2 separate regions of the Homo sapiens genome follow, and region 2 is linked to region 1. The links come from fine-mapping of genetic effects on gene expression. A gene starts in region 1. The other region holds a variant in brackets. All regions are shown on one strand. Distances are from middle to middle.

Region 1 (5,376 bases):
TTAATTGATTTTTAAACTACTTTTTAGATATTTGCAGAGATTTAACAAAATATTTTTATTCTTCTCTTTGGGCTTCCAAAACACCACAGCCATCTGTGTTACTGTCACAGCTTTCAGAGGATTCTCACATGTGTTATCTCATTTTATACAATGCCCAGACTTCTTGAGAAGGTGATAAACCCCCCAGACTGGAGAACACCACGCGTCCTCTACACAGGCCACGTCCAGGGCTGCCTAACAACTCCAGCAGGTCTTAACCATAGCAGAGAGAAAAGTATCCCTGTAAACGGCTTTATTAGGTGCGAAGCTCTTTTAAATGTAAGCTTCTTGAGGATGATGACTTGATCTCATCCAACATTTTATCCTATAGAATGCTACAGAACCAACCTACAATAGATATCTAGTAAATATCTATAGAATAAATAAATGAATTAAAGTCATATAGAAACCTGAGTTAATATTTATTCCATTAACTGACTGGTCATGGTACTAATTAGCTCTAGGAAGCCAGATGAAAGTAATTTATGCAAGGGATCATTACCATTGTCACTAACGCGATACATAAACATGTGAGTGAACATTTTGTGGAGTAGCATATTCTTTGTGGTTTTATGTCCAAAAAGTGCAGTGAACCCGCAGAGAGAAAACATGCTAAAATATAAGAAGTGTGCAGTCCTACCAGTAAGCACAGTTAGATGTGTGATCATCCATAGACTCAGGGCCATTTATTTATTTATTTATTTATCTATCGAGACAGAGTCTCGCATGGTCGCCCAGGCTAGAGTGCAGTGGCGCAATCTCGGCTCACTGCAACCTCCGCCTCCCAGGTTCAAGGGATTCTCCTGCCTCACCCTCTTGAGTAGCTGGGATTATAGGTGAGTGCCACCGTGCCTGGCTAACTTTTATATTTTTAGTAGAGATGGGGTTTCACCATGTTGGCCAGGCTGGTCTCGAACTCCTGATCTCAGGTGATCCGCCTGCCTCGGCCTCCCAAAGTGCTGGGATTACAGGAGTGAGCCACCACACCCAGCCTGATTCAGGGTCTTTATGTAAAATATCCATAACATATCTGTTGGATTCACCCTCTGGTACGTCAGTGGCCAGAGAGATGGGAGAAGAATGATGGGAGACAGTTTTTTAGCACTTATAATGAGAGGCAATGTTGTAAGGACTTGGCAGTAGTAATACTCCCCATTTTACAGGTAAAGCAGCTGAAGCCAGATATTAGGTAACTTGTGTGTGGGGGGGCCACACAGCTTGTAAATTTCATTTGATCCTGATTTCAGAGCCCTTGCTCTTATTACACTATATTGTACTCAGAGTGACACCAAAAAAACAAAATACCACGCCCCCCTCCCCCAACACACACACAAACACACATATATAAAACCCTCACTGCCCTTTAAAGGAAGTCTCTTCACAGCTTCTATTTTGCCAAGTTTCTGTTACCACCATTCCCAACCTGGACATAAATGTTGCCAAAGCACTGCATAGAATTCATTGTGATTTTTTCCCCTCAGGCACATAGAAAAGATACGTTTAGTCTAAGTAAACACAAGTATAAACCACACAACAGACTTTTTTTTCACTTATCTAATTAGTAGTATTTAGCATTTAAAAAGCAAAGATTGGTACTCTTTGCTGGCGGGAGGGTAAATTGGTAAAATGTTTTTGTAGACCAAAAAGTACCGTTTTATATCTAAAGCTTTAGAAAATATACCCTTTGCCCTAGGAATTCTACCCCTGAGATTCTATCCTGAGAAATAATCTTATATTTCTAATAATTCCTATAGCATAGGAATATTCTATATTAAAATAACTTTGTTCCTTTTCCTTCATACTAAGTTATCCTGAAATATTGGCATTATTTGCATAGTTTTGCTTGATACTGTCTTTTGTCATTGTGAGTTTATACAGTAGTACATGAAGTGAGCCCTATTTTTTGACAAAGATATTTCTGGTGGACCCATCGCTTTCAGTCAACTTTATAAGAACTAACTAGACCTACCAGTCAGCAGAGAGAGTAAACTTACATTATTAATATAATTTTTGTTAGAAGTGATGGTAGCTTGTTCTTAAATAGATTGTTTTCCTTTTTACCTTTTACCTTAAAACTTAGGCTTTTAAAGTTTTTCTTTAAAAAGTTTGTTGAAAAAGCAAAAGATCTTGTACTTACATATCAGTGACTCGTTCGGGTCTCTGTGTAGTAGCTGTGAGTAGTTGTCCAAACTGAAGTAAGTTTTAACTGTGGCATGTTGTTTTAAGAGAGGCTGTGCAGACCTCCTTTTATGGTGGTGACTTTTTTTTTCTCTGTCACCCTGTGACTGAGCATGTAATGAGCAGTTAGCCTCGTGTACGTGTGTGCACTTTGTGTTTTTTTTTGTTTTAAATGGGAAGTGAAATTTTTTATAGTGATTAAAAAAAACTATCCAAAAGCCCCTTGGAATTTATGAATTGTTGATATCTGTGGAACTTTATAAATTTTTCTGTAAAGGTTTAAGTATCAAAAAATTCTTTGAAAGAGACTGAAGCAATAAACCTTAACCAAAAAAAAGACCAAGTTACTGATGATTTTATATTGATTTTGCATGTAAAAGTATGGGTTTTTAAATGTTTTAAGGAAAATAGTGTCAACTTTGACAGTGCTTTTTACCTGGAAACTTGGTATCAGGGAGTAGTTTACACATTCCACCTTATCCACAGCTTATGAGAAAGAAACAGGTTTCTGTGGCGTGGGGGTGAGTGACAGTCCAGGATGTGGAGTGGACTGGATTAGTCGCCGTTTTCAGTCGAGAGGCTGCCTGAGTCAGAGGCTGTGTGAGTACTTGAATAACAGGGAAACAGTTGAAGGGAGGCCCATTATAGATAAAATCCAGCCTCTTCAGCACAGGGTGAAAGAGACTCATGCCATTCACCTCATAGTTGTAGTTGACTCAGTTTAAACCAACTAACGTGTCTGTCAGAATGCAGTTTATTTGTAGGCTAAATTACCAGATATGTAGCACTCAGATCAGGAGAGGTGATGTTTACACTTAGTCAGGACTGATCTGGCCATTCCCAGCCACTTCTGGGTGCTGCTTTTTACGAAGACATAGATAACACCTGTGGCAGTGAGGGGCCTGGATAGCAGGTCTTAGGAGAACTGATTAAATAAGCTGGGGATGTGTATGCTTTGTAGGCATAGGGTCATTATCCTTATGCTTGTGGAAACTCTCATAGAAAAGTGTTTACATTGCTTGTGTCAGTCTTCCTAACTCCAGAGACTAGCGGGAGGGTCAGTAAGAAGTTACTGGACATAGCTTTTGGATCAAAAGATGAGAGTCATTCCCAAAAGTTGTGATTATTTTGAAAAATGGAATATGCTGTTTCTTATTTAGATGCTTGAGTAAACTTGATGATTTTGAGGGATGATGTAAACAGAATTGAATCATTTGGTAGGAATTTGTAACTCTGTGATCTCAGAAGCCTTTCTGCTCCAGGATTCTGTAAAAATAGTCGAGTAGCTTTTGCCTCCCACAGATGTCATTAGGTTCTTCTAACGTCTAAAGTGCTGTGAGTATGGAGGAACATTGTCAGACACAAGAAAGAGCATCAAGCAAGTCAGCTGAATTCTTTGGGCCGCCACCTCACTGTGTATAAAATAAAGGTATTGAACTAAATGATCTCCAAGGTAATTCCTAGTACAAAAATTCTATGAGGGGGTAATACAGAGATTTTATGACTTGGTGGATAAACATGACATCATATTCTAGAACTAGTTCATTTAAAACTTAGGCTGCAGAGTACTTGAAGAAGACACTGTTGATAAATTTTTCAGTTTGTTGAAAGACCATTCTGGTGGGGTTTTGCCTGTTAATTTTGAAATAGTTATATTAAGTAAAACATTTTTATATAGTGAAGGACTCAGCTAGTTCAAGTAATTCCTCTGACAAACTGGATCTGTCCTCCCAACCTTCTTTTTTTTTTTTGAGACAGAGTCTCGCTCTCACCAGGCTGGAGTGCAGGGGTGTGCTGTCGGCTCACTGCAACCTCCACCTCCCGGCTTCAAGCAATTCTCCTGCCTCAGCCTCCCGAGTAGCTGGGACTACAGGCATATGCCACCATGCCCAGCTAATTTTTGTATTTTTAGTAGAGACAAGGTTTCACCATGTTGGCCAGGATGGTCTCAATCTCTTGACCTCATGATCTGCCTGCATTGGCCTCCCAAAGTGCTGGGATTACAGGTGTGAGCCACCGTGCCCAGCCCCTTTTTTTTGATATCAGAGTAGTCAGGCAGATGAAGAAGAGGTGATGGGGTCATTATCCTGTAAGAGGCCGCTGAAGCTGTATATTAGATCATTTCATGAGCTCACAAACCTTGTTTTTATTGCTGTTGAAAGTTACCAGGGTTTCTTGAGTTGTGATTGTACTGTAAAAGTAGAGTTGGCCTTTACAGTTTTTTTGTTTGTTTGTTTGGAGACAGGGTCTCACTCTGTTGCCCAGGCTGGAGTGCAGTGGCACGATCTTGGCTCACTGCAACCTCTGCCTCCTGGGCTCAAGTGATCCTCCCACCTCAGCTTCCTAAGTAGCTGGGGCTACAGGCACATGCCACCACGCCCAGCTAATTTTTGTATTTTTTTGTGTGTGTGTGTGGAGACAAGGTCTCATTATGTTGCCCAGGCTGGTCTCAAACTCCTGACCTCAAGCCATCTGCCCACCTTGGCTTCCCAAAGTGCTGGGATTACAGGTATGAGCCACCACATCCAGTGACCTTTTCTATAGAAGAAGTGAAATGGACATTTGCAACCTTAACAAGGTGTCTCTGTTATTTTATGTTTTCTATCGAGTGCGATCATGAATATATAGCAGTAGATGCTCAGTAAATATTAGTGATTTTAAAGGATGAATTAGCAATGGCTCACGCCTGTAATCTCAGCAATTCAGAAGGCTGAGGCAGGAGGATTGCCTGATGCCAGGAGTCTGAGATCACTGTGGGGAACACAGCGAGACCCTGTTTCTAAAAAAAGTTTAAAAATTAGCCAGGTGTGGTGGCACACACCAGTAGTCCCTGTTACTCTGGAGGCTGAGGCGAGAAGATTGCTTGAGCCTAGGAATTAGAGGCTACAGTGAGCCGTGATTATGCCACTGCACTCTACTCCAGCCTGGGTGACTGACAGATACCGGTGTCTCAAGAAAAAAAGAAAGGATGGATGAAATGTTTATAACCTGCTTTCTCTTTTCTGTGCTACCAGCCTCATCTGCTTAAGCCAGAAAGGGCTTCCAGAAGGTAGTTCTTCACAGTATGAAAAAGGTCAAACTGAATTACTGTTGACAGTATAGAGAACAGATGTTGTCATAAAATAAGGAAAAGAAAAAGACTGGTCAGTGACTAATAAC
Region 2 (5,376 bases), 130 kb after region 1:
TAGCCATCCTAACGGATGTGAGAGCCATTGATTTTTGTATGGCAATCTTGTATCCAACCATGTCACCAAGCTCTCAGATTAGGTTTTCATTTGATGTCTTGGATTTTCTAGGCATATTGTCACATCATCTGGAATGGTGACAATTTTGGTTTTGTTCACTTTAGTATTCGTGCCCGTTTTTCTGACTTTACTACATTGACAATGACCCACATTACAAGGTTGGAGAGAAGCAGTGATGGCAGGCACCCCTGTTCTCTTAGATTTCGCTGTTATATGTCTTAATCTCTGAGAGTCTCTGTAGCCACCCTTACCAAGTTAGGAATGAGGTGTTCTGAGCCTGGATTGCTAGGAGTTTCATCAACAATATTCACATTCGCCAAATGCTTTTTGGGGTGTCTATTGAGATGCCTGTACGACTCAGTGCAGTGAATTACATTATCAATTCCCTAATGATTCCTCCTGCTTGCGTTTGTCAGAAAAACCTGTTTGTCATAAACTACTCGTGTCCCACCCAGCGTCCCGATGAGATAAGGACTCCACAGGGACTCTGGGCTGCCCTAGGTTGCCCCAAATGAACAGGTGTCCAGTGATTGCAGAAAAAGAGGAGATGGTGATAGATATGGATCATGTCTTTGCCCCCAAAGAGGGCACATCCGTGGGAAAAAAGTCCCAAAGGAGCAAGATTCTTCAAAGAACCGTTGACCCTGTTGTAACAAGATGGAGAAAATTGTATTCATCAAAACTAACCTTGAGGAGAGGTCTGGATGCATTCAGGAGAAGTCCGTTGATTAATAGCTTGAAATGATTGAGCTGACTACCCAAGGAGACCCTCGTGTTGGGCTGAGAACCTGAAGGCTGGGCTGAGCGAGCCAGGACAGGAGCTTGGACAGAGCCTCCTTGTCTGTGGAGTGATGGGAGAGGAAGCAAAGAAGGAAGGCACAAAGCCAGAAAGCACAGCAGTAGTTGGGAAAAAGGAGAAAAAGAAAAGATGCGGCCGGGCGCGGTGGCTCACGCCTGTAATCCCAGCACTTTGGGAGGCCGAGGCGGGCGGATCACAAGGTCAGGAGATCGAGACCATCCTGGCTAACACGGTGAAACCCTGTCTCTACTAAAAATACAAAAAATTAGCCGGGCGTAGTGGCGGGCGCCTGTAGTCCCAGCTACTCAGGAGGCGGAGGCAGGAGAATGGTGTGAACCTGGGAGGCGGAGCTTGCAGTGAGCTGAGATCGCACCACTGCACTCCAGCCTGGGCGACAGAGCGAGACTCCGTCTCAAAAAAAAAAAAAAAAAAAAGAAAGAAAAGAAAAGATGCAAACCCTGGCATTGAGGCCCCCCCAAAGCCACCAAGGAGGGCCCCTGGGAGAGCGCGAACTCTGCTCCGGCTGCGGGTGGTTGCTGTGGTCTGTGCCTGTCACTCCCTGCTTGCTGAGGCTTTCGTGCCTCGGGTCCACTGGGGAGCAGGAGAAAGTGCCCAGTTCTGTCTGTAGAGAGGACGTCACTCAGGGAGAGGGGCAGGAGCTGAGGGCACGTGACTTACACCAAGGCTAAGGTGCAACGCGAAGGCCCTGACACCTGAGCCCCTGGGAGTTGAAAGGTGACAGGCTAACTTGGGGGATGAGCGGTAGAGTCCGGAGGTTCTAAATGGAGCACAAGTGGACCCTCGAGCGACCTGAGAATACAACCCAGAGGGCTCATGAACTGACATGGGAAAACAATGACATCTGTTTTCACTCACCTCTGGTTGAAACTGAGCAGTTCCTTGTATTATGAACATAGGTGGCAACCACTTAGTGTTAGCCAGCAGAAATAACGGGAAGTTTCATTCCACACTTTCGTTGTTGCCAGTATCTCAAAATGTTATTCAGGCTCATTGCTATTTCAAAATCCCATGGTCAGAGACCCATCCTCCCGGGTATCAGAAAGCATGGGAGCCCTGACCCTGACGGCCACCAGGCTGCAGGCAGAGGGGCATGGCCCACTTGGACCTGAGGGTGTGTCATTCAATCCAGCAAACATTCATTGAGCACATTCTCTGTGCTGGCCACCAGGTCCAAAGATGAACAAGGCCGAGACCCCGCCAGGAGGAACTCAGGGAATGCGACAGGCACAGATGAGCAAGACAATAGTGACAACGCAGCATGATTCATGCTGAGAGTGCCGGGGAGGGCGGGAGGCCAGGCAGGGTTTCTCACGGGAAGTCACATTTGAACTGGCTTTCTCACACTTG[T/C]GAAAGTGCGCCCAAGGACGCAGGACTTTCCTGAACCAGAAAAATCCCTGCTCGCGAGTGTGCACATCTCCGCTTAGAGTGCAGAGGAGCAAACAGCAGAAACTTCCCCCGGCTGTGGAGCCGAAACAGGAAACCACCCAGGAGCCCTGTGCAGAAGCGGCCGGGGATTCCCAGTTCCCCAGGACCCAGTGGGCGTTTTCACAGGAAGCCTCTCTGGGTGAAGCCCCTGCTGTACCCGTCCCGCTAGGGATGGAGGCTCCATGAGGTCACAGGTTGTTTTCTGTTTCGTTGGCTAATGAATCTCAAGCATCTATGCCTGGCACGGATTTGCTTTCTACAAATATGTGTTAAATGAATGAAGAAACACAACTGGATCCTTCCAAAATTGACAGGGGCCCAGCACAGTGTCTCATACCTGTAATCCCAGGACTTTGGGAGGCCGAGGCAGGAGGACTGCTTGAGGCCAGGAGTTTGAGACCAGCCTGGACATTGTATTGAGACCCTGTCTTGACAAAGAAATTGTTTTTAATTAGCTGGGCATGGTGATGCACATCTGTAGTCCCAGCTACTCTGGAGGCTGAAGTAGGAGGATCACCTGAGCCCAGAAGCGCAAGGCTGTAGTGAGCAGTGATTGCACCACTGCACTCTAGCCTGGGCAATAGAGTGAGACCCTGTCTAATTTTTTAAAAAATGCTGGGGGCAGCTGGATAAGGCAGGCCGTGGCTCTGTCTCTGTGTGTGGCACTTGTATCTCCAAATCGCCATGGTGCCCTGCATGTAGGTGACCTAGGAAGACACCTCCTCCAGGTCCAGCAGATGTGGAACTGTTTCATGCCATTGAGCAGGTGGAGTGCTGTTGAGGTATGGCTTACTCTGCCCTCTCCCGGGACCACAGGGTGCGCTCTCGCGGGGGTCTGGAGAATCCTAGCAGGTGTCTGAGCTGCCTGGATTAGGGATCTCTTTCCTCAGAGTGTGATCTGAGCTGGAAGGATGGGTTCCAGGCTAGTGGGGGAGGGCTGGGACTATCTTCTCTGGGAGCCTCCATCTTTGGCTCACAGTGGGTGGGCACAGGCACCTCACAAGGCCTGACAGAGGCCAGTCCCCGATCAGTGTAGGGAGAGCAGAGCATTGGAAACCATTGACCAACTTCACCTCCATCACTTCCAGCGAAGTCAGGGGCATACTGCACCCCCACATATTTGTAGGTTGAAGTCCTAACCTCCAGTACCTCAGAATGGGACTGTATTTGGAGACAGGATCTTTAAAGAGGTGATTATGATTAAAAAAGGTCCCATGACTCGTGTCCCTACAAGAAGAGGTGATTAGAACACAGACGCACACAGAGGGAAGACCACGTGAAGCCCCTGGTGGAAGACACTGTGGAGAGGCTCAGGGGAAAGCAGCCCTGCCCGCACCTTGAACCAGGTCCTCCCAGCTTCCAGACGGCGAGGAAATACATTTCTGTCGTCAGAGGCCCCAAGTCTGCTACGGTGGCCTGAGTCTGTTACTGCAGCCCTGAGTCTGTTACAGCGGCCCCGGAGACCCGGCCGAGTCTTCTCACTCAATGAACTTCTTCAATGGGCTCCTCAAGGTGACACCCACATTGTCACCACAAAGAAGAAATAAACAGAGCTGCCCTCCAGAGTCATAGGTCAGAAAGGCCTCGTGACTCAGGAGTGGGTTATCTGGGTGACCTTACTGCTCACTCAGTAAGAAAAACAGCCTTTCAGGCCTGCACTTCCCAGCAGCATAGCCTGCTCCTTCCTGGCTGATGTCAGAGGGCCCGAGTTCCGATAAGCCGCTGTTTGCTAACGTAGGTCTACACAGGTATAACCGCGGGCCCTGAGTCAGGTGAAAGGCCTGATGTCTGCGGGAAGCTTAGTGGGTTTTTATGTGAAAAAAGAAAAGTCTTACGCCATTGGCTGTCTTTCAGCAGGGCTGTTAGAAACGCACCTGGCTCAACAGCACCAAGAGGATGATGAAAGTAAGTCCAGTCTGGGAGTTCCGTGAGGGATTGGCAGCCAGTCTTCACATTTTAAATACATTTTACTTATTAACTGGAAATGCCTTGGGGAACTCTGGCAAGCATGCAGGGACCCCATTCTCTCCACCCCTCTCAGCTCACTGTTTCTTCATTGCTGGGCCTGTCTCTGCCTCCAGCTGGGCTCCACTTTTTTTATTTTTATTTTTATTTTTATTTTGAGACAGGGTCTCAATCTGTTGCCCAGGCTGGAGTGCAGTGGCAGGACCATGGTTCACTGCAGCCTCAACCTCCTGGGCTCAAGCCCAGCTCAGTCACTGGGACAACAGGTGCGCGCCACCATGTGGGCTCCAGTTTAACACGTCCAAACCTCCCTGTACCTTTGGGAAAGTCCAGGCAATTTCTTGGTTTCCCAAATAAGAGTCACTGACGGCCAAAACTCCTTTATCCTTCCCATTGGGGCATTTCCCCTACCATGGTCCACACTGCCTGCCTGACATTGTTAATGAATCCTTCGTGGGCCTAAGCCTGGCAGAGCAGGGCAGGTAGGGATTCCGGAGGTGCAGGTTTTGCTCTTACCTGGCAGAGTAGCTTCCCATTCTGGGCTTCAGTTTGCTCCTCTGCAGGATGAGGATCATAATAACAGCTCCTCAGAGGTCCTTTGTGAATATTAAGGGAGTCACATGTGTATAAACTGTGTCTGGGGTACAATAAATGCTAAAGGTCCCTTCCCTTCCATCCCTTTCCTCCCCCTTGATGGCAGGACTGTGGCTCCGCCTCCTGTCTCCCCTCCTCACCAAGCGCAGTGCTATGCACACACTGAGATCTGAATACAAACGTGCTGATGAATGGATTCCCTGACCTCAGCATGCACCCCATCGTGTATCACTCACCTGTATCTGCCTCAGCTGGGACTGGCTTTGATGAATGTGAATCTTTAAACTATAATAATTCATGCTCTTGTAGAAAGCATGGCACATGTTTGCAAACACAAAGAAGAAAATAAATATAGTCAAGACCACAGAGTCTGTGTTCCTCAACTGCCTTGAGCTCTCCATGATAATTGTCCCAGAGCATTTTAGAGTAACCGCTTGGCTTCTCAAGGCTCCAAGAAAAAGAATTTCTTTATAGCAGAGCTACATTTAATAGCTTTTTATCTTACAACAGAT

Evidence for each region.
Region 2: its variant is fine-mapped to the expression of GPR183 in monocytes (TOPMed, PIP 0.98).

The regions. Positions count from the first base shown.
Region 1 is chr13:99,305,164-99,310,539 of GRCh38, forward strand. It overlaps GPR183 (G protein-coupled receptor 183), which reads right to left and starts at 2,236. Exons shown (of 2, transcript NM_004951.5): 1 at 2,177-2,236. All of the region lies in intron 4 of UBAC2 (UBA domain containing 2), which reads left to right.
Region 2 is chr13:99,430,652-99,436,027 of GRCh38, forward strand. LNCARGI (lncRNA antiviral response interferon signaling inducer) reads right to left here and starts at 2,099. Exons shown (of 2, transcript NR_197585.1): 1 at 1,736-2,099. RefSeq lists enhancers at 1,226-1,405, 1,416-1,495, 1,739-2,938, 1,946-2,675. The variant T/C (reference allele first, on the strand shown) is at 2,228.